Regions from separate parts of the Homo sapiens genome. Here region 1 is linked to region 2. A link means that fine-mapping ties the variant in region 2 to the expression of a gene that starts in the linked region. Tissue or cell type: monocytes. Region 2 holds a variant in brackets; the other region holds the start of a gene. All regions are shown on one strand. Distances are from middle to middle.

What was found. PIP is the estimated chance that this variant, and not a neighbour inherited with it, causes the effect. A credible set is the group of variants that fine-mapping cannot tell apart.
Region 1: MIR600HG starts here. The variant in region 2 is the best candidate, but not a certain one, in a credible set for the expression of MIR600HG in monocytes (Quach 2016, PIP 0.67).

What each region holds. Positions count from the first base shown.
Region 1 is chr9:123,114,089-123,116,772 of GRCh38, reverse strand. It overlaps MIR600HG (MIR600 host gene), which reads left to right and starts at 1,296. Exons shown (of 1, transcript NR_026677.1): 1 at 1,296-2,684. It also overlaps a transcript of STRBP not described here.
Region 2 is chr9:123,343,980-123,346,663 of GRCh38, reverse strand. No RefSeq gene overlaps it. Among named protein-coding and RNA genes, the nearest start is that of CRB2, 11 kb to the left of the region's middle. The variant T/C (reference allele first, on the strand shown) is at 1,578.

The DNA of each region.
Region 1 (2,684 bases), 230 kb after region 2:
GGCTATGCTGTGTGCAGGTGGTTTGCGTCGCTAGTAGGCACCAATGTCCGTTCTGTCTTCCAAGCCCACTTGGCAGCAGTGGCTTCTCTCTCTGTGATGTGTTCGGCTCACCTTTCCTGTAGGCTTCTGGGCTATCCCCTGTGCGCCTTGAAACCAAGCAAAAACCAACCCACATCTCCCTGATCCTTCCTTAGCCTCCTAAAATCCAGACTTTCTGGGCTCGTTCTTTTTCTGTTCCTTTGTTAGTGTGCTACTGGGCAAGGTGACCAACTGGTCAGCCCTGGGCCAGGCAGCCTGTTTTTTTGTTTTGTTTTCTTTTTTGCCAGCTACACAGTTGGGGTTAATTTCTACAGACCATCATTTTATACTGTAACTGAACCCTATAATAAAGTGCAAATTCAGTAATTGCTACTTGGAGAGCTCCTCAGGGGTGGGAAGGAGGACAGGGGATGTGCTGTTGGAAGTATGTGTTTTATGTTCCGCCTCATCCACACTTTGGTTTTTGGCCACATCCTCCGTTCCTGGCTCGGCCTTCAAACATGTGCTCTAACCCATGGGATCACCGTCACAGTAACACATTTTCCAGAGCAATCTGGTGTTGGGATCCCCTTGGATTCTTCCATCATGAGACTTCTCGGAAGTCTCAGCTTTCTAAAAATCCCTCATTCCTGCAGAGGCTACGTTAAAGGAATATGGTAGCCATCATCTGGGAGGTAAAAAACCTATGGAAATTGGCACCTGGGGAACTCAGGAAAGCTGAAAGCACCTTGAAATGAGATGGAAGGACCAGAAGGTTAAGGCTGGTGAAGAGGAGACCTGGAGAGAACGTGGGCACTCCTGCCAGGTATTTTTAAGGGATTATATTTATTTGTTGTATGTGGTTCCAAAGGGTGAAAGACAATTATGGGAAGCCAGTGGGGCAATTTGAGCTAAAATACACCTCCCGCGATGACAGACGCAGCCTTGAGAGAGCAGCTGAGGTGCGACATGAGCTCCCTGTAACCAGCATGTTCAAGCAAGAAGCCGGTTGTGTGGACGGCAAAGAGGAAATGCTGTGGAATGTCAGTTTGGACGAACTCTGATGTTGACTGGTGATGCTGCCAAGACCATGTCTCCCTTCTTGGGCACGTAGATTTATTGAGAAAAACCATTCACTGTCACCTACTGCTTCTTACCAGGCTCTGTGATGGGGGAGAAGGAGCAGTTGGAGAAAATGTCAGAATCTGCAGCTTAGACAACTGAGTAGAAGGTGAAATCATTGACCCAGATGGAGAGTACAGGGAGGGGAAGAAAGAGGTGCAGAGGATTTGAACAGAATGAGAGTCCTCCTCTGTGCAGGGAGAAAGGCTTCAGTGGGTCTCCCCCTCCCTGCTAGGGATCCTCCTTGCCAGCCCTGGGCTGGGCGCTGGCAGGCCCGTTCCCAGGTCTCCCGCCGAGGGCAGGAGAGGAGCCAGGCCTCAGGAGAGAAGTGCTTACTGAGTAATTTACCAAGAGCGATAGGCTTCCCACTGAGCCAGACGGGATCCCCAGGAGGGGAGTCAGAGGCGGGCCTGGCATGCATGCACAGAGAGAGTGTGCCCACTTGGGGAGTGTGAAGGGCCTTGCTGTGGGACCCGAGAGGATGAGCAGAGTCAAGTGGCAGGTGGGACACACAGTCTGCAGTCACTTCTTAAAAGGCCCTGGGTGGTGTGTCCTTCAATGATGACCATTGTCCACAATAGTGAGTTCCAGAGGGTCGATTGGGACAGTTGGATAGCCAAGGACCAGAGTCAGGAGGCAAGGCTGATGAGCAAGAGGCTGTTGCCATTGGCCAGGCGAGGCGTGAGGGAGGCTGATGGAGCGCAGCAGCAGAGGGATGGAGAGGCAGGAATGGCATCTCCTCACAGGCCAGGCTCCTCTGCCGGATTGGGTAGGGACGGGAAGATGATGGCCCCCAACCCTGGGCCAAGGAACAATAGCACCCATCCGGGGGCGGGGGACCTGCTGGAGTACTTCTCCTGGACCACTGCTCAGTGGGCAATAGAGGGAACAATGGTGTTTCTGACCAGGACGGGGGAAGGCAGGGGAATGGAGGAAGATACTGACAGGGTACAGAGGAGGTAGAATGGAGCGAGGGCCATCTCCACCGGGCTAGGAAATGGGGCTTTGGTGGGCCACACTCCATTGTGCTGGAGCACTCTGGCATCTCCATTGGCAGTGGGGAGGGGCTTGTGACCTATCAGCATCTTCACCCTTTCTGAGTTTCCGCCGGGCTGGGCTCTCCAGCCAGGAGTCACAGGTACCGGGTGGTTGTTCATGCTGAGGCCTTTTGCTTGGCAAAAAGTTAATCCATTTGTGTTCATTTTTAACCTAAGCAAGGGTTGGAGCTTGTTGGATTCAGCATCTGTGGAACACAGTCTGTAGCCCATGGGAAGACGTGGACATTCTTTCCCAAGTTCTTGAAGGACGGAAAGGACCATGAACTTGTGAGGTGACCGGAGGATTGGTTTTGGGTGTCAGTTTTGTGTCTGTCCCAGTGCTGCCACTTTTGCTTTGAAATGGACGGGGAGAGCTGAAGGCCAGCATGGGTTTCTGCACCTGTTTCCTACAGCTCTGCTGGGGACTGTGGCTCAGGTGGCAGCTGTGGACACGGATCCTGTCAGCCTTTGGGTGGCCAGAGCTCCAAGGCCAGGTGTCTCTTAGCT
Region 2 (2,684 bases):
GACGTGTGTGTACATCCACACAATGCCCCCCAGAGCACCCAAATACACACAAACATATTCACATCCACACACACACACACGCACACACCTATCCCAACACTCGAAATCGAAATACCCAGATACAGAACCCTCACAGAACACACCCCCCACACAAATGCAAATATGTGCAGAGATACACAACACACCTACAAGATTCAAAAATATCCTCAGTACACATCTACAAACACACCAGTCCCACATCCACAGACACACAGACCCCTATGCAATCATAAAAGCCCAAACACCTGTGTACCCAGCGCACTGCACAGCCCGGGAGGCCCGCCAGCAGCCGGTGGACAGGGCAGAGCTGCCGTGTCCCTGTGCTCACATCCAGGGACAGGCCTGGAGACCCCGCCACCCTCTGCAAGGGTCTGGCAAAGTGCCACCTCCTGTGGGAGGCCAAGGACACCTGGCCCCTCAGAAGTGCCTGGGTCGATTTCACAGCCACGTGCCAGGCAGCCTGGCTCAGGGGCCACACTGACCTCACCCTGGACAGGAGCGTGTGAGCATGTGTTCCAGTGTATGTTTTACTGGGTGGGGGGGTGTGTGGGGAGCTATGGCAGGAGCAGCATAAAGATGACAAGAGACAGTTTACCTACTATATCAGCCTGCTTACCTCCCTCCCTTGCTCCCTCCTTCCCTTCCTGCCTCTCTCCCTCTCTTCCTTCCTTCCTCTGCTATTCAATAAGGACCTTTAGTGAATCCGGCAAAACCAAGACACAGCCTCTGCCTTCCAGGAGTGCAGTCTTGGCGTAAGCAGACATGCCTGGGGTTGAGCTGTTATAAGACACATTGTGATCATTGCTAGGAGGCCTCAGGGAGGCCTGGCTTTCATCTGGGGCTGTGGGACATTGAACGATTCACGTCCTTCTCTGAGCCTCAGCTTCCTCAGCTGAGAGAGACCACATGCTCCCTGACCACCTGTCGGGTTTGTTAATAGAATCAAATGTCATGATGAAAGTGGCAATGCTTAGCGGGGACAGGGACATTTTTCTTAAAATAAGAGCCAGGTCTGTGCTAGGCTGTGCATCAGATCTGTGATATGGGAATGTGGTTAACTGCATGGGCCCTGCAGTCAGGGAGTCTTGGCTGGGTTCAGATCCCTGCTTTGCCAGGACTAGCTGTCTGAGCTCCAGCTTGAGCTTCTATTTTCTCATCTCTAATATAGATGCAATAATAATAATATCCAATTTACATGAGTGCTATGAGATAACGCATGTTAAGCTCTTAGAACAGGGCCTGCCGGCCAGGCGCCATGGCTCACGCCTGTAATCCCAGCACTTTGGGAGCCCGAGGCGGGTGGATCACGAGGTCAGGAGATCGAGATCATCCTGGCTAACACGGTCTCTACTAAAAATACAAAAAATTAGCCAGGCGTGGTGGCGGGTGCCTGTAGTCCCAGCTACTCGGAAGGCTGAGGCAACAGCGTGAACCCTGGAGGCAGAGTTTGCAGTGAGCCGAGATTACACCACCGCACTCCAGCCTTGGCGTCAGAGCGAGACTCCGTCTCAAAAAAAAAAAAAAAAAAGAACTGGGCC[T/C]GTCACAAAGTACATGCTCAATTAAGCTCCTATTCTATATAGGCTGTCATGTATTCATACAACAAACACTGAGCACTTACTATGAACCAGGCATGATTCTAAGTGCTCTCCAAATTCTAACTCATTCAATCCTTTTAACAACTCTATTATTATCCCCTTTTTGCAACAAAGAAAACTGAGGCACAGAGAGGTCCAGTCACTTATTCAAGGTCACACAGCTGGTAGAAGGCAGACCTGGACTGAAACCCAGGTCTGTGGGACTCTCTGAATCTATCTACAAGGTATGTACTTCCCTTTTATAGTTCAAAATCCTCCTCCCCTCTCCCCAGCAGCAGCCCCTGTTAAATAAATCATCCAGTAACGGTTTCTAATTCCCAGACTTGGTTGCAAATGAATTATTCACATGGTAAGGCCTGCAAACTGCCGGCTGGGCCTCATTACCCAAGAAAGGCTGCCCGCCCGCAAGATGCTGCTCCCTCCCCTGGGCATGGGTCCTGGCAGGTTGGCCAGAGGTGGCCAGAGTTGGTGGGCCCCGCTCCAGTGCCCTGCTCCGGGAACTGGGAAGAGCAGCTCTTTTCCTTTCCCCCGGCCCTTGCTTTCTAATAAGCTCACAGTCTGATGTGGCTGAGAGACCATAAGCTCTGGACTCAGCCAGTCCTGGGTTCCAATCCTGGCTCTGCCCTTAGCAGCTGTGTGACCTTAGGCAGGTGGCCAGCCCTCTCTGAACCTCTGGGGGAGGCTGAGCAGCTGGCCCACACAATGCGGCACAGGGCACCACTTCACACTTCCTCTTCTTCCTCCATTTGCAGGCTGAGGCTTGTGCTGCCCCTCCAGGCCCTGTGCTAGATGCTGGGGACAAAGATCCTGTCCTGTGGGGACATCCAGCGTCTGACTGAAACACTGGTGTGAGCCTGAGCTTTGGGGTGGGTTGTGGGGACTACTCTGTGCTCCAGAGCCCCTCTTCAGGGCCAAGCTGCTGGGACTGCTGTTACCTCACTGGGTTATACCCCATGCCAGGGACAGCCTGTGGCCAGTGCCTGACCCATGTGTGGCTGCAGAGGCACGGCTCCTTCTCAACTAGGAAACCCTAGGGGATCGTCAGCTCCA